Linked DNA regions of Homo sapiens. The protein of the gene in region 6 purifies or fractionates together with the protein of the main gene of each other region. This does not show direct contact. Each region holds a gene or a part of one and is shown on either strand. Other genes may lie near its edges.

Region 1 (3,500 bases), on a different chromosome or scaffold from region 6:
TTTATTCCCTTTATTTTTATATTCTGTTATTTCCTTATACAATAGAGTATGAATGAAAACAAGTATCTACAAGACCAGTATTTCTTCAATTTTCACCTTGTGAAAGCTGGGTATTAAAATAAAAATAAATTAAACTCTTGGGCTGGGAACTCCCTGACCATATTTCTCTCACTGTGCTGGGTGTCTCTACGCCCCCTTTCAATCTTGAGTACATATAGTCAATAGGCACTGCATGCACTGGGGGAGCACCTGGCCCATCAAGGGCCTTTCCCAGAGGAAGTAATGAATAAAGAACAGATGAAGAGCTGAGTAGTGGTTCCTGACCTGCCAGCAAGAGAGGAGGGGCAGCATTTTAGATTTGAGTCATCTCCACTGGAGTCTGCCAGTAATCAGTTGTGTGACTTTAAGCATATCAATTAGAAACAGAAAGCTTGGCATCCCGAAAAGAAAACCATTCCTTCAATTTTCTACCAATTTCTCTGCTGAAATGGTACTTATTTGTAACACAGTACCTTAAAATGAGTCCGCAGGGAACTGGAAAATGTTATTTTTTTGAAGTTTTACACATTCAGTATACTTTGCATCAGTAATAAAAGTATATTAGTAAAAGTATACTCAAGTATAGGATATTACGAATTGAATTTCAGCAAGACTTGAATTTTACTCCTCATTATTTATCCAAAAAGGAAAAAAGATCCGAGGATTTGTAAGTGACGTGACCAAACTCCAAAGGCTGTTAGCGGTATCCGCATATTCAGGATGCAAATCACTCTCTAGTCAACTGCACTTGCTACTAAACTGTGATTCACTGGCTGTTAGTGGTATCCGCATATTCAGGATGCAACACCCTCTCTAGTCAACTGCTCTTTCCACTAAACTGTGATTCACTGGGTGCCGATTTCTTCATCTCAAGAGGTGATGATTACCCCCTTTGTAATACTACCTATCTCATAGGACTATGAAGACTAAAGAAAATAAGGTATACAAGAGCATTTAACAAATTTACCATACCACTTCATACTATTGTGGAGAGGGCCAAGAGACAAGAAATCTGGTAGCATTTAAAGTGCTAAGAGCACAAAATAGAAGTGTTATAAGGTCATCTCACCAGCCAGATCTATACTTTAGCTTGATTATACAATAAAAGCATTGACCTTGCCACTCTCCAAAACTATCAGCGCAAGCTACAATGCCCCCTCACACTGGCAATTTACCATGAGATTTCTAATCAATAATCAAAACATTGTATTGTATACTTCCTGCTCTGAACAACAGGTACCAAAATTTCAGCAGCCAGGTAGGTTGGAGTTCACAATCAGGCAGCCTAGAATTACACTCAGCCCACAAATATGTTTTGATCAACATAATTTTTAATGGCAAATTTTTAAACTAAATACATTAAAATCCACGACATGCAGTGGCTCACACCTGTAATCCCAACAATTTGGGAGGCCATGGCAGGAGTATCATTTGAAGGCAGGAGTTCAAGACCAGCCTAGGCAACATAGATAGACACCATCTCTACAAAATTTTTTTAAAAATTAGGCCGGGCGCAGTGGCTCACGCCTGTAGTCCCAGCACTTTGGGAGGCCAAGGCAGGTGGATCACCTGAGGTCGGGAGTTCGAGACCAGCCTGACCAACATGCAGAAACCCCGCCTCTACTAAAAATACAAAATTAGCCAGGCGTGGTGGCGCATACCTGTAATCCCAGCTACTCAGGAGGCTGAGGCAGGAGAATTGCTTGAACCCAGGAGGTGGAGGTTGCAGTGAGTCAAGATCGCGCCATTGCACTCCAGCCTGGGCAACAAGAGCGAAACTCCTTCCCACAAAAAAAATAAAAGCAACAACTAGCTAGTACATGGCCGGATGCAATGGCTCACCCCTGTAATCCCAGCACTTTGAGAGCCTGAAGCAGGCGGATCACTTGAGGTCAAGAGTTCAAGACCAGCCTGGCCAACACGGCAAAACCCTGTCTCTACTAAAAATACAAAAATTAGCTGGGCGTGGTGATGGGCACCTGTAGTCCCAGCTACTCAGGAGGCTGAGGCAAGAGAATCGCTTGAACCCGGGAGGCGGACATTGCAGTGAGCCAAGGTCATGCCACTGCACTCCAGCCTGGGCAACAAGAGCGAGACTTTGTCTCAAAAAAAGAAAAAAAAAAAAAACTAGCTACACATAGTGGCATGCGCCTGTAGTCCTAGCTATTGGGGAGGCAGAGGTGGGAGGATCACTTGAGCCCAGAATTCAAGGCTGTAGTGAGCTATTACCACGAAACTGCACTCTAGCCTGATAGGACGATACCCTGTCTCTAAAAGTTAAATAAATAAATAAGAATAAATTAAAATCCAGATTTCCAGCATCTTTTCCAAAAAGTGTCAAAAGATCCAAGGACACTGGGCCCACTTCCTCACATGGCAACAAGCAAGTGGAGCTGAGCAGCAACTGCTCCCTTTAGTTTGGGCCCGTGCTCTCCAGTTCATCAAGGCCCAGCCTACTCATCCTAGTACATAACAGGCATCGGACTTGGAGACCACTGAGGAAGATGCTCAAACAGAACAATAATAATAATTTAATGAAGATTTGTTTACTCTTTTTTGGCCAGTTTTTTGTGGCTCTATCACACATTAGCTCTGTGACTCTTAAGTAACATATTTAACCACTAAGCCTCTTAAATTTAACACAAGCTGAAATATGCTGACTTCTGAGTCAAAAAACTTCACAAAAACTTCGAACTCACAGAAACAAGTCAGGGCACCTCCCATAGGGAAAAAACGTAATGTGGCCACGAATGGTGGCTCACGCCTGTAATCCCAGCACTTTGAGAGCCCGAGGCAGGCAGATCACTTGAGGTCAGGAGTTTGAGACCAGCCTGGCCAACACAGCAAAACCCCGTTTCTACTAAAAACACAAAAATTGGCCAGGCGTGGTGGCACCTGCCTATAGTCCCAGCTACTTGGGAGGCTGAGGCAAGAGAATCTCTTGAACCCAGGAGGCAGAGGTTGCAGTCAGCCAAGATCATGCCACTGCACTCCACCCTGGGTGATAGAGCAAGACTGTCTCAAAAAAAAAAAAAAAAACAAGTAACGTGACAGAAGTCCTTGTCATATAATAATTTGACATCTACAACTGCGTCCGTAACAGTAAGGCCTATACATCAGAATAACAGATTGCCAGCAAATTATCTTAGGCTGAATCATATAAATCCACTCAACTGCAAAAGTTTCTGAAGTCTTCAGGTATAAGTCAATAAGCAAAACAAGCTCCCCCACCAAAAAAGAAAAACATTTAAAGTAACAGATAAGGCTATGAGCTCCTTTAGTGCAAAGGCCACTTCCATTCCTCGTGATCCCTCCTGTCTCACAATGACTGGCACACTGAAGCTACAGCTCAAGGGCAAGTTTCTCTCTGAAGCCTTTCCAGAGGGTCCGCATCCACATCACAAAGAACAAGCAACATGGTGTAGTAATGAAGAGTGCCGATCTCAGTGTTCAGCAGATAA
Region 2 (3,500 bases), on a different chromosome or scaffold from region 6:
GAACTGTCTATTTTGGGTGCCTCCACACTAGAGCTGCAGCCTCTAACTTCATGTGTTCCAGATGTTCCAGGGGGTCACAAATGTGTCATGAATTTCAACAGGGTTATACAAACACTTTAAAGCTTCATTCCACTTTATTTTTTAGAAAACAATATAATTCTCCCTGGAACTAGAAACAAAGACCTGCCAGTAAAGGTTTCCCAGTTGTGCCTGTTTAGATGACAGAAAAGAGAGGGAAGTTCACAGTGGGCTTGTTGATGTAGATGTGTCAGGGGAAGCTTCTTGGGGGTCTTGAAGGAGATCACTGGACGGAGAGTGGTGGGTGGGTGGGGTGGGGGTGGAGGGATCACCGCAGACAGAGGAAACTGTGTGTGGAAATGCAGGAGGCGTGGAAATGCAGGAGGCATGGAAATGCAGGGGCATGAAACTGTGGGCACGTGCAGCAGAGGGATCACCGCAGACAAAGGAAATTCTGTGTGGAAATGCAGGGGCCGTGAAGCTGCGGGCGCATGCAGCAGTCTGTATGTCGTCCCATTCATGCAGGAATAGAGGGAAACAGAAGAGACAGATGAACAGGCAAACGCTAGTGGGACCATGTGATGCCCCAAGTGACATGCTGGGATGAGTGGACCTTATCCTATCGGGCTTTAAAAGCAACTGTGGTAAAATACACTTAACATAAAATTACCACTTTAACCATTTTAAAGCGTATGATTCGGTAGCATTTAGTATATTCACACTATCTTGTTGCAGAATATTTTCACCACCCCAAAGGAAACCCATATACATCAGTAATCACTTCCCACTCCCCCTCTCCCCATCAGCCCCTGGCAACCATTAATCTGCTTTCTGTCTCTATAGACTTGCCTATTCTGGATATATCCTAGAGGGTTTTAAGTAGGGTAGTGACATGCTTATGTTTGCATTGTAGAAAAATGACTTAATGTCTAAGGAGAAGGCTAATTTGGAAGGGAGTCATACTGGTACAAGGAGGCAAATTAGGAGACTACCAAATCAGGTGAGAGGATGTGGGCTCATGGGAGGGATGGGGAGAAGGGGAAGGAGAAGAGGGTAGTAAGATGGAACCAATAAAATCAGTGATTAATCCGATATAAAGGTTAAGTGAGACTTTCTCTACCCATCCCCAACAAATCCTCCCCATTTCAGGCTTCTGACATGGGCAGATTTGCAAAGGTGGTGCTACTCACCAGGAAAGAGAAAAGAGCCACATGGGAGCTGCAAGTTTGGCAGGCAGAATATGTAGGATTGGTTTATTGTTTCTGCTTTCCAGTATAGAAAGATGCATACCCTCAAGAGAATCTGCTTGTTGTGGTTTCTGATTTACATGTAAGTTCTTTTCACTACTTTTATGCCATTCCACATTTACTAAATCTTATCTTTTAGTTTGCTTTCAGACACTAACTATAAGTAGAAATAACGTAAATAGCATTCAAATAAAAATATATTGAAAAGGTACTTGGGAACGAGAATAAAAAACAAGCCAAAGCTTGTTAGCAGACACTTCCTAACAAAGAATGCAATAAGTCACTTTCGAAAGAATGAAAAAACAGCAGAGATCAAGGCTGGGAGTTGCTTCAACAGCACTCAGGGAAACGATTCTTGAGGTCTCCCACTGTACACCTCTGGTGTAGCAAATGGTTATTGAATAGAATGAGAAAAGGAGCTTCTAGGTGCTTCAGGAGACCCACATGTAGCCATCATAATGGTACATATTCTAGAGCAGTTAAAACTTTTGGTGCTCCTTTACAACATCCCCAAGGGGCTTCCTATGTACACCATCTTAATCAGTTGCAACAATACTGTTTGTAATTTAGGACTTCCACTTCTGACTGTGACACAATAGCATGTACCAAACCAATCTTATTCCACAGAAAACAATAGAAGCTGAATTAAAAAGAAAATAAGCTGTTTAAAGGTATCAGAGAGCAACCAAGCCTTGAGAGAGGCCATGATCGTAGAGAAAAGGGAATCACAAGGAAGTGAGCCTAACATTTTGTGCTGCTTTTCCCTTTGGGAAATTCACCAATTTTTAAGCTTCTCTGACCAAGACGCCAAGTCAAAAGCGGCAGATAAGAGAATGAAAAGCTCATTAGTCTTACGGTGCTTGAGAGACCAAAAAACAAAAACAAAGAAAACCCCAAAAGAAACAACAACAACAAAAAATTGGAGTTGCAAGCCTGTCAAGGAGGGACAGCACTGGTAAGCACTGCAGGCTTTCCATCAGATCCGTGAAAGACAATGCCTTGGAAGTAATAACAAACCAGAAACAGGTTAGTCCTCACAAACCTTGAAATCAAGCACTGAATCAATCGTCTCAATCCCAAACTTTATCAAGGTGATATGCCTCTACTCTGTATGCCTTCTAGAAAAAATTAAATCCTTTTGGAAGAAAAATAACATTTTTCTTCATATATTTTTTGTACATTTTCTTCAACATTTAATAAAATTTAATAGGCATGACAAAGAACAAGAGCAATGACTAAAATTTAAGGAGAAAAAAAGATAACAGAGACCACAAATGATCCAGATATTAGAGTTACCAGGTACACATTTTAAAGTAACTGTGAACAAAATATGCAAGATGTTAGGTATAGAAAAATAATTCACAAGATAATTAGAATATATACAAGAGAATCAAATGGAAGTTCTTTAACTAAAAAGTTACTCATTCATTGTTCATTGAAATTAAGAACTCGATCGATGTTTTAGCAATAGATTAGGCATGCAGAAGAAACACTATATGAACTGGAAGTTAGGTCAGTAGAGGATATCCAGACTGAAGCATGGAGAATAAAGGTATGAAAATTCAAAAAAAAAAAAAAAGAAGAAGAAGACGACATGAAACCATGAAACATTTAACTTATGTTTAACTGGAATTTTAGGATAAAATGATAAGGAAGAAATGGGGCAAAAGAAACAAATAGTAACATTCAGAGATACTGACTGAAAAATTTCCAAAATTGACAAAAGTTACCAAGCCAGTTTTGAGAAGCTCTATGAATCCTAGATAGAATAAACACAAAGCAAACTAACCACATCATAGTACACATAATAGTATATTAGTAATAGTATATTACACTATAGTATGTGTATGTGCACACACACACACACACACACACACACACACACAGAGAGAATAGCATTTTGCTAAAAGCAAAGACAGAGAAAATCTTAAAAGCTGTCACAGAAAAGGAAACAGTACTTTCAGTACCTTCAAAGCAGCAAGAAAACTGACTATTCAACAGAAACAATGAAAGCTGGAAGACAGTGAAATAATATCTTGAAAGTTCTTAAATAAAATATCTGCCAACCTAGAACTTGTATAGAAATGAAGACCTTGTAAAGATATTTTCAAGGAAACAAAAAATTGGAAAAGGTTTTTGTCAGCAGACCTGCACTAAAAGAAGTACGAAAGACTGTTCTTCAGACAGAAGGAAAATTATCCGTAATGGAAACATGAAAATGCAGAGGAGAATGAA
Region 3 (3,500 bases), on a different chromosome or scaffold from region 6:
AACTATATTCAAGCAAACTGCTGTTGAAGGTGCATTAAAACAGACTTAAACACATTATTTGAAATAGACAAGATAGTCAAATGCAGTGGCTCACGCCCGTAATCCCAACACTTTGGAAGGCCGAGGCCGAAGGATCGCTTGAAGCCAGGAGTTGGAAAGCAGCCTAGGCAACATAGCAAGACCCGTCTCCATAAAAATTGAAAAATTAGTTGGGTGTGATAGCATGTGCCTATAGTCCCAGCTACTTGGGAGGCAGAGCAGGGAGGAATGCTTGAGCCCAGGGGTTCGAGGCTGCAGTGAGCTATGATCACACCAATGCACTCTAGCCTGGGTGACAGAGCGAGATCCTGTCTCCAAAAAAAATAAAGAAAGAAAATACACAAGACAAAAGCAGGGCCCATGTGAACAAGAGCATGTCATCAAGCAAGGACTAGGGTCAACCCAATTCTAGATCCCTGAGGGCCATTCAGAAAAAGGTTTAATCAGATTTTTCACTAAACATCATATCAGTCCCTCCTTGTCCAGCTTAAGCCCTAATGTAAACTCTTCTTGAGAGCCAGAACACACTTCCTTATCTCCACCAGAAGGCATCAGCAGACCCCAATCCCACCCCTACCCAGAGCGAGCTCTTCACTTCCTGAACTCCCAGAGCGCCTTGCCCATATTACCTGCATAGTTTTTTTCCACTTGCTCTTTTAAGTTTCTGTGTGCCTGTTGTTTGGCCTCTGTGGTCTTGGAAGGCTAGAAGCCCACGCTGTTCATCTTTTCTACCCACATCCTTAGCACAGTGCCTTCCAGCCAGCAGAGAGCACTGTGGCCGAGGGGTTAAAAGGACGGGCTCCCCCTCCCAGTCCTGACTCCCATTGTAGGGCAGCCACTCACTAACAGACTACCCAGAATTAGTCACCTCGGTTTTCCCATCTGGAACCGGGAGATCCACCTACCTGTGGTGGACACCTGGCATTTTATCCACCCTGCTCTTCCCAACTCCACCCTCCAGCCAGTATGCAGGTCCAGCAAGGCCCCTTGGCTCCCTGGTCTCAGAGTTCGGCATAGGACCTAACTGGGCCAATCAGGGCCTTCCCTGAGATTTTCTGAATTGGGTGTGGGGAGAAAGAGTGGGGAGAGCAGAAAAAGCGGCAGAATATTAGTGCAACTGTGAGACAGGAGATGAGAGCCCTAGGGGATCATGTTTCTAGGAAACATCTGAAGAAGGCCCATCTGAAAATGAAGCCAACATTCCCGCTGAGAGAAGCCAGGATCAGAAGTGGAGAGCAGATGGAGGAGGATTTGTGTCCCTGGTTCCAGGAAGTCCAGCTGCACCTGGGCCCTTCCCGCAGCTCAGGACCATCCCTTTCTGAACCAAGTATTTCAACTTCTTCCTGCCAGACCAACGCTTAGCACAGGGCCTGGCACGTGGCAGGTGGGCCACACAAATGGCAGTCAGTAGTCCCTTCAAACTTAAGCTGAAAATATGAAACACTGAGGAGCGGTGCATGGTTTTCCCCAGTCTGAAAACCCCTCTCCTTAAGAAGGTGCTAAAGGCTCCACGTGTACTCAGTAAAAGCTCAGGGCACAGGAGGAGAGGTCGCCCAGGGAAGACACCATCTCCCTTGAGCTGGGAGTCTGGAGGTCAGCTGCCAACTATGCCCTCTCCAGAGGTGTGAATCAAAGATCCCCTATGGGAATTGTGCAAAAATTTACTGGGAGTCAATGCTCAGCTAAGATCTAGGGTGGGGATACCCAGCTGCTTCCTCCTTTATTAACAGGAGGGGACATTATGGGGTCTGGAAAATGCTCTAACAGCCAGCAGCTTGTCACAGGGAAGCCCCCTATACCAACTGGCTCATTCACTGTCTCAAGTGGGACCCAAGGCCTGGGTGCAGTGGCTCATGCCAGCTCATGTTGGCAAAAGCCAACACCGGGCTGCCCAGAGGGGCCTTAGGCAGGGAGCAGCCAGCAGCCACAAACATCCAACAACCTCTCCTGAAGCTTCCCCAGCCTACCTCCCCAGACAGCACTGGGAAGAAAGAGCAAGAGTGGCTGCTGGCAGAAAGGGAAGGCAGGGAGGAAGAGGAAACAGCCCCTGAGAATATCCACAGCCTCAGCGGTAGCTCTCTGGCTAACGTCCAAGAAGTCAGAGGGACAAAAGAGACAGAAGAGAGAAAGTAAGAGAAGGGAATGAGTACTTCCTGAAGTCTACTGTGGCCTCAGCCTATCTTTATTGATCACAATAATCCTCGGGTTAGAGCCACCGTCATCCCATTTTCCAGATGAGGAAACTGAGGCTCAGAGAGGTTAACTTTGCCTCAAGTCATCTGGCAAGCAGCTTAAAGCCAGGACTCCAACTCTAGCCTGTCTGACTCCAAGAATGCAAGCTCTTCCCACAAGTATGCAGGCCCTCTGCTTTGCCAGGGGCTGCAGGGCTCCAGCCACTAGCTCCCCTGCGAGTGGGACTGCAGAGCTATCACCACACACCAGTGACAGTGGCCAAGTCCAGCACACAGCACACATGCACGTGGGTGTGCATTCCAGACACGAGGCTGCCCAGCCCTCTGTTCATCAGATGCTCTGCAATTCCCACTTCACTTCCAACTGCTCCTCTCCCACACCTGCAGCCTGTTCACCCCCCACCTCCACACAGAACCACAGAAACACACCCTGCCATGTGATTGAATCCAAGCAGAGCCCAGGTCACCAACAATACTTCCAGGTGACCAAGCTTCCCTTTTGCCTGAAGCTCTGTGTTAGCCCAGGGTTTCAAAGCTGACATGGGCCCTTGCTGCACTGTGGATTTGGTTTGTCTAAATCCAAAGTGCAGCAAGGCCCATGTCAGGTCCACCGTCCTAGCCAGACCTCAGTACCGACGCCTGAACCCCTAGCTGACTGCTGTGCTCACACTCGCCGCCCATGATCTCTGGCTTTCTTAATGGGATCTGAGGAGGCAAGGCCAGCAGAAAGCTCACCCACTTTTAGGGGCTGCCTGGAGCCAGCACCCATAACTTGGCTCTATGAAGCCTAAACAAGAGGCAGACAACTCAGAAGCAAGCAAGCTGTCCTGAAGACTGAAGACATCCCTGGGATAGGAGGTCCTGCCTCCCCTCCCACCCAGCCCTCTGCAGAGCACTGATGTCTAGCCCCTGTGACTCTACTTAACACAAGATAGGAGGTCCTGCCTCCCCTCCCACCCAGCCCTCTGCAGAGCACTGATGTCTAGCCCCTGTGGCTCTACTTAACACAGGATAAGAGGTCCTGCCTCCCCTCCCACCCAGCCCTCTGCAGAGCACTGATGTCTAGCCCCTGTGACTCTACTTAACACAGGATAGGAGGTCCTGCCTCCCCTCCCACCCAGCCCTCTGCAGAGCACTGATGTCTAGCCCCTGTGGCTCTACTTAACACAGGACCCTCGTGGCTTCCAGTTCTTTATTAACTCATGTTTCAACTCCCATACCGTCTAAAATCTTGAAAACACAAGGGCTCTAAAACGCTTACACAGCTTA
Region 4 (3,939 bases), on a different chromosome or scaffold from region 6:
CTGGCACAACTCCCATTCAGACTGGACCATGGCGAGAGCAAGCCTGTCTCCCTCTCACCGCCCAACTTGGCAAACTGAAGGTTTTGTATTCAGTTCTCTCTCTCGCCTGGCCGGGGAGCTCCTGAGAGCAGTGGCAACATTTGAGATTTATCACCATGCTTCTCTTGCATCCCATGAAACACAAATATTCAACAGAAAGTTCACCTCTGATCAAATGAACAGAATAAATCTGGGGGCAAACACATACCAGGCTGGACTCCATCCGTCTCCTCTCCCAGCATGCAGCTTCCTGGGGGTAGAGACATTACCTTGTACACCATTAGCCCAGTGCCTGATACCAGGTGGGCATTGACTAACTGGTTGCCAAATAATGCAAGAATGGGCTTTGTGCAGCTATAGCCATTTTCCACTCTAAGAAAATCCTACAGACAAAAGTCCAACCATTCAGAACTGGTAAATACTGAAGGCCTGAAGGCTGCTACCGACAATATAATTCTGTGCTTTACCAAAAGCCTTGTAACATGATTCCTTTAAATGTCAGGGTCCCCTGAATAATCTAATTTACAAGAATTCCACTTACACGCAAATTCTGGGAACAAGCCAGGGGAGGCACATCCTGGCCGGGAAATAGCAAGCCTGACTTTGACATCTGCCCTAACAGCTGATTCATTAATAAACGGGATTCCTGGGGTCCTGGCTACATTTTGCCTCGTGGTGTCCAGATTGGAGTGGGGCAGGAGGAGGTCCCTAAGAGTCTGAGGGAACAGCAAGGTCAGTCAGCCAACAGCAGGTGGTCCTGCTACACTCTGCTCCAGAGCACAGATGCCGTATGTGGCTGAAGGGCCTGGGAGGGGGCCAGGAGCACACGGGCTTTGTGTGCACTCTAGGCTAGCTCAGAGAGGAAGACAAACCCCTCATGCCTGGTAAATGGCTGCTCAGCCAGTAAATGTGATCCTACATCCTTCACAGTCACCTGGCTGCTGCCTCCTCCTCCCCGCCAAGGTGTTCAGACCCAAGGTACTGCATCTCTTCTCCCACGACCCATGGAAGAAAACAGTGCTGAAACTGTCACCGGCAGACTTTTGCAGTCATCTCATCCTCCTCACGTAAGTCTCTACGGAAAAGCCTGCCTAAAAGTTACCTCCACCCTCTAGCAGCCTAGTGGACAGAGTCCATCCTCCCTGGATCTTTGTGGACAGCAGCAGGCCACATGCAAACGGCAGAGTGCTCTAAGAAAAAGAAGGAAGTGAGAAAGGGAGGGAAGAAGACAAAACAGGGGATACATTTAAAAACTAACAAAGGCTCTGATGGAGCCAGATGAACCAGATCTGAATCTTGGCTCTGCACACCTGCTGTGTAAGCACAGACAAGACATTAAACCTCACCATTCCTCAGTTCACCTATAAAATGGAACAGTAATACCGACTTTACAGAAAGGCTGTGATTAAAAGTGCATATGAAAAGCTTAAAGTGCTTTGCACAGTGCCGGGCACATATTCTCTCTTGAGCTTAGAAATCTCTGTCAAATGAGATTCTTGTCAACTCTGCCCACTATGAGGATCAAATGGGAAAACTGCCTTAGAATGCCACAGAAGCTGTATTGGACACACCTAGGGGACTGTTACTGGTATGCTGGGCGGCCAAGCCAGCAGACTCAAACAGCTCTGCAAATCAGCCAGAGTGGGGAGTGAGCTTCCTCTGCCTATAAGCACAGAACCCCCACCGAGATTTTTTAGATGCCATCCTTGTGATCCTAGGGCTTCCGGCCTCCACCAAAACGCTCCATGCATCCTTCCAACCCCCGCACAGTCCTCAGTTTACATAGAGAAAAACCAGCACACTAAAGGAAGTGACGTGTCTTTAAACATACAAACAGGAAGCCGAGAACAGAATTAAGGAGGGAATCCAGGCTCCTTATACCAGCCCTGGTTCCTCCCAGAGGCTCATCCCATCTCACTGGGCAATCATTCTACACACCACAACCACCGGTTACACTGTCCCTCCCCGCTGTCAGGGCCTCTGACACCAGTTGTGGCAATCACTTATAGTACAGAGGAGAAACCAAAGTCCAGAGGGAGAGATCACACAGTTGGTGCGCAGCAAAGTCTGGGCTTTTCGATATGGCAGCCTCCCTGCAGACAGGCTGACCTTGGCCGCAAGGGCTCTCGGGCTGTCTTTTTTGAGCTGCACCTGTGTCGGGCTGGCGCTCGGGTGGCACCCAAGGTTAAATACGACAGCAACTTCTGTGCAGCGGGCACTTAACTGTGCCAGGCTCTGAACTGGGCATTTTACCGATTTTACCGATTCCTCCCATCCATCCTCCAAGTGGGCGCTCTCCATATCCCTGTTTCTCGGAAGGGAAACAGGCTCAGAGAAAGGGATTTGCTGCGGTCTGGGGACCGGGGTGGGGGAGTGCCCTGCCTGGGCTTTGAGTGCCTTGACTTTCCTCCTGTACCCCGACCCATGGACTGCTCCGTAGTCCCTGCCCAGGTCCGGCCCGTAGACCTCTTGGGGACGCGCACGTGAGGCCTGTGCCGGCCCGCGCGCACGCGCCGGGTCACGTGACGAGCCGGGGACCCGGGACCTCAGGGCGCCGAAACAGTTAGGGGTCGCAGCCTCCCCTCTCCCAGCGGCTGCCTACCCTTCGCACCGCCTCGCGCTACTCACTCCGGGCGGGGGCTCCCGGGACCGAGAGAAGAAGATGGGGAAGAGGAAGGGAGGGCGGCGGCGGCGGAGACGCCACAAGCCAACCGCAGCTCCGCCAGACCACGACCAGACGCGACAGCTCGCGGCGCGCGCTGCCTTTGTCCGCCAACGTCACTTCCGGGCGTTTAGGGGCGGGCCCATGGCTGGCTCCACCCCCTCGCTCAGCTCGCCCCTCCCCCGCGCGGGCTCCGGATTTAACTTAACTTCTTTTGAAAAATAATTTAAATTTTTTTTTTTTTTTTTTTGAGATAGAATCTTGCTCTGTCAAGCAGGCTGGAGTGCAGTGGCGCGATCTCGGCTCACCGCAACCTCTGCCTCCCAGGTTCCAGCGATTCTCCTGCGTCAGCCTCCAGAGTACCTGGGACTACAGGCGTGAGCTACCACACCCAGCTAATTTTTGTATTTTTAGTAGAGACGGGTTTTCACCATGTTGGCCAGGCTGGTCTCGAACTCCTGACTTCAAGTGATCCGCCCGCCTCTGCCTTCCGAAGTGTTGGGATTATAGGCGTGAGCCACCGCACCTGGCCTAATTTGACTTCTTTAAAAAAAAAAAATTAGAGACGGGGTCTCACCCTGTTGCTCAGGCTGATCTTGAACTCCTGGCCTCAAGCGAGGCTTCCACCTCGGCCTTCCAGACTGCTGGGATTACATGCGTGAGCCACCGCGCCCAACACAGGTTACAGCTCAAAACTTGACTAAATTGACTTTTGGGAATCTAGAAGGACCTCCCGAACGGAAAAGAGCCGCAGCGTCGCCCTCTCCCCGTCCCCAGCACGTACAACAGTTCGTTTGGAGGCTGCAGGCTGGACTTCTAAAAACGAGTGTGTTGTGCGGGCTTTGAGTAAAAAGGGAAAAAAAAGCCATTGGTCCTCAAATCCACCCATCTCCATTAGCATCTTAAAATAATACCGACCCCCCAAAATAAATAAAATAAAAAGAAATACTCTCGGCAGTGCCATGGGATTCCCACTGAAATGAGCAAAACAAGCCCATGACGTTTCCATTCCAAAAGCGTGGCCCTTCCCTAGGCTCCTCCCATGCAAAGAAATTCTGGAGCTATCTCCGAGGCAGCGGTGATGGAAACGGGAGCTTGCAGGTGGGTAGAGCCTGTTAACATTTCCGAGCTTCAGTCTCCTGTCAGAAGAGGAAGTTGAGCAACGTAATAATTACTCAACTTCTGATGCTCTGAGAGGGTTAAACTTGTGGGACATTGCACGTCAGACCTTCAGCTCA
Region 5 (3,500 bases), on a different chromosome or scaffold from region 6:
CCCTGGGCAGGCCCAGAGGTGCTGAGAGGTTGTAAGGGCAGACAGTCTACTCAGCCCTCCTGCTATCTGGGTTCTATCTCTCCCAGATGAAGCCAGAGAGCCAGGAGGGATGTGTGGGAGCCAGCTCCCCGAGGCATTAGGGCTCCAGCCTGGCAATGCTGCATCTTGTCGCCCAGGGACATCTGTGCCCACCGTAGGGGTGCCATGAGCCAGACCCAGCCCTGTGGGAGGGAAGAGAGGGAAGGAGGCGGTGGGTGCCGTGGAAACTTGGGCTCCTGACAACTTGAGGGCTGCCACAGAAATAGCGGCCTCGGTTCCCTGAACCAGAAAGGCAAGTCAGAGGAGAAAACAGTGGTGGCATCCCTGTGAACCTGCACACCCGGCTCGTTGTGTCCCTGTCAGAGCCCAGGCCCTCCATGCCAGGGAGTCCTCTCGCTGTTGGGGGAGGGGCCCTCGCATCTCCATCCTGTTCCACAGGCTTCCCCATCCCTGTCACTTCAAGGGCCTGCTCCCTCCTGAAGGGCAGTTGCATGGAGGCCCCCACATCCCCTCTTCTCACTTCTTATGGGTCAGGTCACTTCATTCTGAGAGCAAGTGGGAGGCAGGCCCCACAAACCACTGCAGGGTGGGGGTATCCCAGTGCCCACTCTGAACAGACCTTTCCAGAAGGACATTTCTGTGTCTGCCCAAGACTGAGGGAGGTGCCGAGATGGGGACACTCCGGGCACAGGCTTTACACAACACCCCCAACCCCATGCAATAATTTGCTCTGCCCAGTCCGCCTTTTGGGGAGCCTCAGATTTCCCAGCCTCTGCCCAGCCCCGACGCTGCCCTGCCATCCTATCTTTGCTGACCATGGAAGGAGCAGATCTGGACCTTACTTAGTCATTCTCTCCGCAAAATTGCATAATCTGACTCTAAAAATTGCCAGGCGCACGGCTCTGCTGTCAGGTCTAATTCCCATCAGGTGAAAGAGGAAACGTCTTGGCTGAGGCAACCTTGTTCCTCAGGCTGTGGAGGGCCCCCTTCCCGGGAGCGGCAGGAGCAGGTGGGGGCAAGATGGCTTCTGTCCCCACACTTCCCCTCAGCTGCCCCTGCGCAAGGTGTACCCCTGCTCACCCAGTGACTCACAAACCTGTTGTGCTCCTGGGCTCGTTAGGTAAATGAATACACTTAATTATAGAAATTAGATGAGTCTCCGGTTCTGGCAGGAATACAGAGCGCAGAGGCTGGGTGGGAATGGCAGGTGACTCAGAGGCAGGGCTGGGAGTTTGAGGGAGAGGGAGAGGGAAGAAGAACTGTCGCAGAAGCAGAGGAAGCAGCGTGGAGAGCGATGCTGCAGCTCGGGGCGCAGAAGGGACACCAGGTGCCGCCAGTGGGAGTCACCACTGAATCTGGGCAGAGGCTTCCTGAGGGAAGGGCCTCCCTCGCCTAGGCAGCCCGCCCACGGCCTGCACCAAGCCTGAAGCTACAACGCTAGGGACCCCTACCTGCGCCCCAAGCCAGGGATAGAAAACATCAGGCCTCTTCTCCCAGGGCAGCACTGCCCATAGGCACTGCTCTTCCAAGGAGTCAAACCACCTTTACACCAGCAGAGATGCCCGACATAACAGCCTTGTTCCTTGCTGGTCTGGGTGTGGGGTGGACAGACAGACAGACAGACAGGCTGTTCGGCTACTGGTTAAAGGCTATGAGGAATGGAAATACATTCACAGTGATTAAAGATATTAACATAGGCGTGGCTCCCCAACAAGGCTGACTGGCCCCAGGCGCTCTGTGCACACATAAACGCCTGGTGGCTGAGACTGGCCCTGGTGGGACCCCGAGAGGAAGGCAAGGCCGAAAGACAGGTCCGGGGTGTGCACCTACAGCCCAGGAAGAGGCCAATATGGGGAGAAGCTCTGGGATTGCTTTCCCCTTTGCTCTCCGGTTCCAGAGCTGAACCTTTTGGGAAGCTTGGAGCTATGGAGGGCAGGCTCGGGGGCCTAAGTTCTCCTCTGTCCTGACTGCTCCCCCCTGCTCCCTCCTGCTGCCCGCGTGGGCCCTGGGGAGTGAGCGCTGAGGGCATGGAAGGGTGCCTGTTTGTGCGCGTGTGCCCAGAGGGGAAGGTGCAGCTAAGGGGCAGAGTGACCAGGGGGTGGGCCGGTGAGGGGGTGGAAGGGGGTGAGCAGGAACTTTTTCAGAGGGTAGGGCAAGCTGTAACGCGATGCCAGTGGAGACAGCCCCAGGCTGGTTCCAGCTGCTCCAACTATGTTGTTTAGACTCCGGGACTTTCCACAGCCTTGGTGAAGAAAAGGCACATGGGTCAGTGGGCGCAGCTCCACAGGGTCCACGCTCCAGGAGACACTGCAGGGCGGGTGGCCCTGGGCTGGTGTGGAGGGGCCTGGCCCTCCTTGACTCTCCCTGGCCTCAGGTCTCCTGGGCTCCTGAGGACAGACTCCAGGGCCCCACACCCAGCTGACTTTTGTCCTGTCCTGCCCCCAGGTAAGCTTCCCACCAGCTCCTTGATAGCCCAGCTAGACAAAGACCCCACAGCCTCCAGCATCAGCCTTCTTGACTCTAAGAAGCCCTAATTAGCACCTGCCACCATCCTCCCAGGGAACTGACACTCTGATACATGGGCCTGTGTGGAGGAGGCCCAGACCCACTCACTCCTGGTCTTAAGCATAACCTGAGTGTGGAGAAGTGCGGCACGGTACGGCGTGGAGAAAGTTGCCGAGTGTGCATTGGGAGTTTGGCAATGTTAACTGCCACGCTTGCTTAGCAGGGCCTGTTTCCCAGCAACCCACCTGTTCCCTCTCGAAGGTCACTCTAATTGGCTGAGCTACATGCCTGTTGCCAAGAAGCAGTGTGGAGGCATCTTGAAAACAGAGCAGACAGGCCCCACAGGCACCCCAGGGATACTGGATGGTGAGATGCTGGCTCTCCTGCCCCGTGCACGTGCCGGTGAAACTCCTTCCCCAGGTGCAGTCCACTCCCAGTACCTCGTGGTCCCTCCTGACTGGTACCCTCACGGCCTCTTCCACACCTATTTCCACTGAGCCCCTCACAGCCCAGGGAGGAAAGCAGGGATGCGTGGCACTCAGCTCTGTGTGCTCGAGTCCTACACAGGGACCACTCGTTCTAGACTGTCTGCTTAGCACGGTCCAGCCAGAGCAAGGCTTTGGGCCTGAACAAGGACACAGTGGAAGCCACTGCCTGTTTGGGATGGTCGGCGGGAGAGAAGGCCAAATCCAGGCCCAAGGATAGGACACGGGGGTGAACAAAGGAACACAGGCGAGGGTAGAGGTCTGAGCACCCTCCATCTGCTGCCTTTTGCTGGGGTTGCTGGACCACTTCCTTCTAGGCACCAGATCACTATTCCCATTTCTGCCAGTCCACAGAACACATGCCCAACAAAGCTGGACACACACCTTTCAGGGGCTGGTTAGGCTCAGGGTGGCCTGGGGCTTCCATGGGGAGAGTGGTACTGAAAGGTCTGGGAAAGAAACTAGAAGGTG
Region 6 (3,500 bases):
CACCTGTAGTCCCAGCTACTCGGGAGGCTGAGGCAGAAGAATGGTGTGAACCCGGGAGGCGGAGCTTGCAGTGAGTAAAGATGGCACCATTGCACTCCAGCCTGGGCGACAGAGCGAGACTCCTTCTAAAAAAAAAAAAAAAAACAAAAAACAAAAAACAAAACAAAACAAAAAAAACTCTTCTTGAAGCCAGGCGCAGTGGCTCACTTCTCTTATATAATCCCAGAATTTTGGGAGGCTGAGGCGGGTGGATCACTTAAGGTCAGGAGTTTAAGACCACCCTGGCCAACATGGTGAAACCCTGTTTCTACTAAAAATACAGAAATTAGTCGGGTGTGGTGGCTCATGCTTGTAATCCCAGCTACTTGGGAGGCTGAGACAGGAGAATCGCTTGAACCCGGGAGGCAGAGGTTGCAGTGATCCGATATCATGCCACTGCACTCCAGCCTGGGCAACAGAGCAAGACTCCATCTCAAATTTTAAAAAACTCTTCTTAAGCTTGATTACATTTTTAGTCTTATCTATCTCTTGGGGTCAGGAGCTCAGTGAGTCTACTCCTTGCTGGCAAATACAGGTGACTTTTCACTAACATAAAACTACCTCTTTGAGACTTCAAGGTGGGGTAGAGGTCAGGGATGAGGAGAGAGGAGATCCTCATTTCAGCATCTGGGTTTCATGATAGGCTTCTGTTTTTCCTCCTCTTCCCCAGCACAGTATTACAGATTTCAGTTATATTTCCTCTGGAGTTTCAATTTTGTTTAGATGTCAGTGAGTTACGATGAATTGTATGTTCCTGTCCTCCTGGTTCTCCCAGCACAGTACAGACTTTTGGCCACTTCACATGGTTTCTGACAGAAAACTAAATCTCAAACAGGTGCAACCATGCTGATTAGCATTATAATAGATTGTAATTACTAACAAGCCCATATATACCCAGAGGAACTTGGAGAGAAATATAATGTTTTGCCAAGTGTAGCTTTTATTTATGTAAAATATTGCAGGCCTGCTCTGGAGTTATTTTAGCCTAAGTGAAACCCCTGGAAGCTTTGTCTGAACATGCTTCAATAGCTCTATGAGTTCAGGCGCCGGAATTTGAAATTTCGTTTCTTGTTGCTGCCAACTACAAAGGGTTTTGTATCTAAAGCCCTGATGAGAATTTGAACTTCATTTAAACTCTGCAAATGGAGGACAAGTGGGCCTTTTTCTTCTTCCCTCACCATGGCACCTGGAATGGGCCCTGGGCACTCAGAGGGTAGAAAATTCCTACTTTTGGGAAATTCAGACTTGACGGAGATTCTTCAGCTTGATGCAAATTGCTATGTGGAAATAATATAGCATTCTCTCATAAGAACATCTTCAGGGATCTCATAGATTTTTATAAAATAAAATATCCTTTTCTCCTTCCTCCTCCTCCTCACTTCTTTCAACTGTACAGAAGGATTGTTTAAGAAATTCATTCAACTGGTTTCTATCGAGATGCCATGCTCCTCAGAGGCAGGAACTACACATACACAACTTTTGTGTTACCAAACCCCATATCTACCAACAGTGCTAGACCATAGTAGGTACTATAGAAATACACACTTGTTTTGTGTTCATTCATTCATTCATTCATTCAACAATGTGCCAAGAAATTTATTCATTCATTCAACAATTTATTCATTCATTCAACAAAGTGCCAGGCACTGTTTTGGGTGCTGAGATAAAGCGGTGAACAAAAAGCTCTACATTTATAGAGCGTCTGGTGTTCTGGTATTAGAAATAAACAACAAAGATAAATAAGAAAACTAAATAGCGTATCAGATAGAGGTAAGAGTAAAGAGTAAAAAAAAAAAAAGGCAGGAAAGGCGCATATGAAGCATAAAATAAGAGGGTGAACTTTTAGATAGGATTGCCAGAAAAGGCCTTACTGAGAACATAACATCTGAGCGAAGACTTGAGCCATGTGGATATCTGGGAAAAGGGCATTCTAAAAAAATGGGATGGCAAGGGTAAAGACTGAGGCAGGAGCATGGTAAGTGCATTTAAGGGGTGTCAAGTGGGTCAGGATAGCTAGAGAGGAATGAACAGGGAGAAGAGTGGCAAGTGATAGGGTCAGAGAGGTCACAGCAGAAGGCCTGACTTTGTTGGTCTTGTAAATTATGGTAAGGGATAATCTCACCTGAGAGATCTGTGAGCAGAGACAGGAGCTGAGAAGCCAGGACAGGTGGAAGCAATTCAGAGGCTGTTGAAATAATCCAGGTGTGAGATAATAGTGACTTGGACCCAAGTGAGGTCAGCAAAGGTATGGAAAGGATGTGATCTGAGATATATTTTGAAGGCAGAAAGAGCAGATGTTGCTGATGGATAAGATATGGGGCACCTGAGAATTACAGGCGTCAAGGATGGCCCCTCAAGGTTTTTGGCTGGGTAATTGGAAGGATGGAGTTGCCATTTCTTAAGCTGAGGAAGAAGGGCTTAGATTGAGGAGAGGGGAAAATAGGTATACAATATTAGGCATATGGAGTTTAAGATGCCCTTTACACAATGAAAGCTGAGGACCTGAAGGCAATCCCATATATAAAGTCTAGAGTTCAGGGTCAGGCATGAGCTGGAATTAGGAATTTAGTGTCAACAGCACTGAAAGTGTATTTAAATCCATGAAACTAGATGACATTGGCACAGTAAAACCAAAACACCAGCTCCCAAATATCCTCATTTCCAATTACCCATACCTCTTCAATAAATAATTAACCTTTGTCTACAATGACCGCAGCTTCTAGACTTTCCAGAACAATCTCATTTCAAGTAATTCTATTATCTTCCAAAGGGCAATTTGTTAAGTATAACTAAGTCAAATTTATTTTTAGAGTATGTAAGACTTTTCATATAAATACATTCACAAATCAAGGAGAAAAATATATTTCACTGGACCATATGTTCTGATTTAAGATTCTAAAACTATGAACACACAAATGACTCTTCAAATATTAATAAAATTGCTGAAATGTATTATAGCCAGACCACTTGCTACAAGCTTTATAGTTCCTTATTTAATTCTCATAGCAACTCTGAAAGTCAAGACCTACGACATTTCCATTTTACAGATGAAGAAACGGGCTTAAAAAGCCTAAGTCACATGCTCAAAGTCACACAACTAGTGAGTGGTGGAGATGCCTTCCAGTTAGAACTCACTGAATCCAGGGAGAGCGGTCCATTGAGGAGCCAGGGAATTCAGGGTCTCAAATATTCACTAAATCTGCTGCTGGTCAAAGACACTAAGAAGAAGAAACAGTTCAAACAACGCTTGACTGTCCATGAAGTTGAAGGCTAACTCAGGTCCTTAACTCTAGGGACCCAATGCCAAGAGGTTGTCTGTGATAGCACTGGGCCAAGAATGAATCCTTTGGGTAGTTGTTAAACAACCAGCTATGGACCAATGAGAGCAATATTGGATTACATGGTATTATGGGAGTAGGGGAAAGGGAGATCCAGGGACCCTTGGCTGCTGGGGAAATAAT
Region 7 (3,075 bases), about 18 Mb from region 6:
AATGAGATTTCTCCAATGCTACTCAAGTTCACTGGAGGGCACAGCTGCTCCTCAGAAGCCCTCACCCACAGACACATAAGCTACTGCCCTTAGGCTGCTGCCCTGGGGTCTCCAAGCCAAAGTGCTCCTCAGCCCTCCATGGCATCTGCCCCTCTGTCCAATGTCAGGCAGAGGCTCCCAGGGATGGGAAATAGGAGGGGCTCCTAATAGTGACAGTGGCTGAAGAACTCCAGGGTGGTTTTGAGAATGCAATGGCAGCCTTAGCCACTGGAGGAGGACTAACCAGAAAGAGTGAGGAAGAGTCCAGGCCTGGCCTCAGACAGGCCGCAGTGCTCAGCCTTCCTTTTACCCTGATGAGTGTTCTCCCAGTGTCAGGAAGAGGGCAGAACTCTCTGTCAGGTCTTTGAGTCAACTGAATTGAGGAAGGAGGGCTGGACACCAGCCAGAGCCCCCAGGTAAGCGCTGGCATCAGCACGACACAGGACTCAGAGAGCACAGAGTTAACACGCTCCTGCCGAGTCCCAAAGAGTCACGAGTGTGAAAATGCCGAGTGTGGGCACGCAGCCCTAGCCAGAGCCCTGCCTGGTGAGGCTGCTCTTATAATTTGGGAATCTGCTCAATTTTCTAAAAGAAAGCTCTGTTCTACTACACTCAGCATCAAGGGACAGCTCGGCTGTTTATTAAGTCAGTAGAAAAATGACTGTACAGGTTTAAGGTGCAGGAATGAAGATGGGGCAGACTGGGCCCCAGCATCTGAGGCCCCACCCCCATGCCAGAGAGCTCCAGTCCAGAGCCTGAAGTGTGGTCAGCACATGTGAGCTATCTGGATGTCCAGGAATATCTAAGTGTGCTGCCCCCGTAGGAGGCACTGGAATTCCTTGCCCAGCAGCTGGGCCTAAAGAGAAGAGGCTGAGGAAGCCAGGCCCTAGAAACGGCCCAGCACGGTGGCTAACAGAGCCATGCGGATGTACATGCCGTTCTCAGCCTGGCGGAAGTAGGCTGCGCGGGGATCCGAGTCCACTTCCACGCTGCAAAAAAAAAAAAAAAAAAAAAGGAAGTGTTATCGTGCAGCCCATGGATGGCTTGTCCAGGACTAAGTCTCCTCCCGTCCACCAGCCCCGAGGCAGTCTCTGACTCTGATGCTGCACCACCTTATCTCGTTGACACGGGGCATCGGGTGCATCACCACCATCTTCTTCTTGGCCCGGGTCATGATGTGGGGAGTGAGGATGAACTGACCAAAGCACTGCAAAGCAGATGGGGTCCCCATTAGTGCCTTGGGGTAGGAGTGGCTACAGAGGACACAAGTCTGGGCTCCACTGGGGTCCCCTCCACACCCACATGCAGCTATGGCAATTGACAGATGTGAAGTTTAACAGCTCTGACCCAGCCCTCAGCCCAGCCTTTCTGTCCTCATATCTGATGCCCTACGGCAGCAGCCCTGGCTTCTTCCTCAAGCCCAGCACTCACAGCTTCGTACTCCTGGGTAGAGCCAAATCGTTCCTTCTGGATTCGAGTCATGTAGAGCACATCAGTGTCAGGCAGCGCCTCCTCAATGCTCTCGAATTCCTCCTGGAGGGTGAGGAGAGCCATGGTGGATGCAGCGCTGGGCTCTGACTGCCCAACCCACATCTCCATGGCTTCCAGGCAGGGCTGTGAGGGTCTCACCTGCTTGGTGCCGCGGGAGGCCACGAAGGCCCGCACAGTGGGTGGCATGCGCAGGCTGGGAGGTGCCACGTAGCGCAGGCTGACACGATACTGGGTGAGCAGGCAGGCCAGGGAATGTACTGTGCGTCCGTGCTTCAGGTCACCCACCATCGTGATCTAGGAGAGGAATCCAGTCACCACAGGGATCCCAGACTGAGTGCCCCCCGACATCATTTCCAAGCTTTTAAAAGCCTCTGGAGCAGAATGAAGGCCTCCTTGATGCAGCTGTCCTGTACCGGGGTAACCACTTCCTGCCTCCCTCTCTAGATCGTCCCCTGGCAGGGATCCAAACCCTGCCACCACCCTCACCGTCATGCCATTGACAGTTCCCAGCTCCTCACGGATGGTGAAGATGTCCAGCAGGGCCTGGGTGGGGTGCTCTCCGACCCCATCCCCAGCATTGATCACTGGCCTCCGGCAGTGCTTGGCGGCCAGCTGGAAAAAAGGGGAAAATCCTGTCTTTTGCAGCTCAGAGGCCCCCCAACTGCCAGTCCCCCTCTTCTGGGGTCCCCTCACTCATCTGGCCCAAAACACAGAAAACGTGGGCAGAAGGGTTCTCATGCCCCTGGGTCCAGCCTTCTTAACCCCATCTCAGTACCCAGGCTGGCCTCACCTCCACTGCTCCAGGCTGGGGGTGCCGGAGCACGACGACGTCGGCATAGCAGCTCATGGTCTGCACGGAGTCAGCCAGGGATTCGCCCTTCTGGACGGACGATGTGGCTTCCGAGAAGCTGAGCACAGCACCTCCCAGCCGGGCCATGGCTGCTGCAAAGGAGCTGCTGGTCCGTGTGCTCACTTCATAGAACATGGAGGCCATGACCTTCCCCTAGGGAAAGAGCAAGATGGAAGGTGTACGTATGCGTGTCCACCCTGGGGAAACCCCAGCTAGGCACCACCACCCCAACTGACACTTGAGGGGTGCTGTGAGGACCCTTCTGCACCCAAACCTCCCCTGTGACCTGTCAGAGCCTTGACGTTTCCACCACTGGTGTCACTCTGAGCTAAAGGCTCTGCCTCCAGAAAACCACCCATCATTAAGTGTCTGAACGAGCTGGGAAAGGAGGACACACCCTAGCTCTCTCCCATGATTGCAGCAGCCCAGACCAGAAGACCCCACTAGTGGGGCGATGGTCTCATGCTCAGGGCCTCCCCAGCCAGCTAAATCCTGCTTTGGGGAGGGAAAACGTGGGGGAAGATCTACAGCAGCAGAGGGATGGACTAGCATAAGGGGACGGGATGGCAGGGGGAGGAAGACCCACTCTGACCACTGCGCGGCCCTGCGCTGATGCGGCCCAAGGGCAGGCGATGGCCTGGACCCTACCCCCGGCCCTGATCCTGACCTTCAGGATGTCGAGGCTCCGCTCCTTC

What was found.
Region 1: the proteins of PRKCE (region 6) and MAPKAP1 purify together in Homo sapiens (co-immunoprecipitation; one study listed by IntAct). This does not show direct contact.
Region 2: the proteins of PRKCE (region 6) and CPVL purify together in Homo sapiens (affinity purification with mass spectrometry; one large-scale study listed by BioGRID and IntAct). This does not show direct contact.
Region 3: the proteins of PRKCE (region 6) and PSAT1 purify together in Homo sapiens (affinity purification with mass spectrometry; one large-scale study listed by BioGRID and IntAct). This does not show direct contact.
Region 4: the proteins of PRKCE (region 6) and NTMT1 purify together in Homo sapiens (affinity purification with mass spectrometry; one large-scale study listed by BioGRID and IntAct). This does not show direct contact.
Region 5: the proteins of PRKCE (region 6) and KCNC4 purify together in Homo sapiens (affinity purification with western blotting; one study listed by BioGRID). This does not show direct contact.
Region 7: the proteins of PRKCE (region 6) and CAD purify together in Homo sapiens (affinity purification with mass spectrometry; one large-scale study listed by BioGRID and IntAct). This does not show direct contact.

The regions. Positions count from the first base shown.
Region 1 is NC_000009.12:125,700,709-125,704,208, forward strand, and holds part of MAPKAP1 (target of rapamycin complex 2 subunit MAPKAP1), read right to left. Parts: intron 1-3,500. UniProt on the Homo sapiens protein: Component of the mechanistic target of rapamycin complex 2 (mTORC2), which transduces signals from growth factors to pathways involved in proliferation, cytoskeletal organization, lipogenesis and anabolic output.
Region 2 is NC_000007.14:29,000,038-29,003,537, forward strand, and holds part of CPVL (probable serine carboxypeptidase CPVL isoform b precursor), read right to left. Parts: intron 1,348-3,500; exon of another isoform or gene 1,292-1,347; intron 1,019-1,291; exon of another isoform or gene 932-1,018; intron 1-931. UniProt on the Homo sapiens protein: May be involved in the digestion of phagocytosed particles in the lysosome, participation in an inflammatory protease cascade, and trimming of peptides for antigen presentation.
Region 3 is NC_000009.12:78,314,125-78,317,624, reverse strand, and holds part of PSAT1 (phosphoserine aminotransferase), read right to left. Parts: intron 1-3,500. UniProt on the Homo sapiens protein: Involved in L-serine biosynthesis via the phosphorylated pathway, a three-step pathway converting the glycolytic intermediate 3-phospho-D-glycerate into L-serine.
Region 4 is NC_000009.12:129,625,024-129,628,962, reverse strand, and holds the start of NTMT1 (N-terminal Xaa-Pro-Lys N-methyltransferase 1), read right to left. Parts: upstream 2,801-3,939; 5' UTR 2,668-2,800; exon of another isoform or gene 248-2,667; intron 1-247. UniProt on the Homo sapiens protein: Distributive alpha-N-methyltransferase that methylates the N-terminus of target proteins containing the N-terminal motif [Ala/Gly/Pro/Ser]-Pro-Lys when the initiator Met is cleaved.
Region 5 is NC_000001.11:110,227,314-110,230,813, reverse strand, and holds part of KCNC4 (voltage-gated potassium channel KCNC4), read right to left. Parts: intron 2,282-3,500; coding exon of another isoform or gene 2,115-2,281; exon of another isoform or gene 2,016-2,114; intron 1-2,015. UniProt on the Homo sapiens protein: Voltage-gated potassium channel that opens in response to the voltage difference across the membrane, forming a potassium-selective channel through which potassium ions pass in accordance with their electrochemical gradient.
Region 6 is NC_000002.12:45,658,175-45,661,674, reverse strand, and holds part of PRKCE (protein kinase C epsilon type), read right to left. Parts: intron 1-3,500.
Region 7 is NC_000002.12:27,241,369-27,244,443, reverse strand, and holds the end of CAD (multifunctional protein CAD), read right to left. Parts: coding exon 3,048-3,075; intron 2,534-3,047; coding exon 2,321-2,533; intron 2,143-2,320; coding exon 2,017-2,142; intron 1,825-2,016; coding exon 1,669-1,824; intron 1,573-1,668; coding exon 1,471-1,572; intron 1,247-1,470; coding exon 1,152-1,246; intron 1,029-1,151; coding exon 926-1,028; 3' UTR 501-925; downstream 1-500. UniProt on the Homo sapiens protein: Multifunctional protein that encodes the first 3 enzymatic activities of the de novo pyrimidine pathway: carbamoylphosphate synthetase (CPSase; EC 6.3.5.5), aspartate transcarbamylase (ATCase; EC 2.1.3.2) and dihydroorotase (DHOase; EC 3.5.2.3).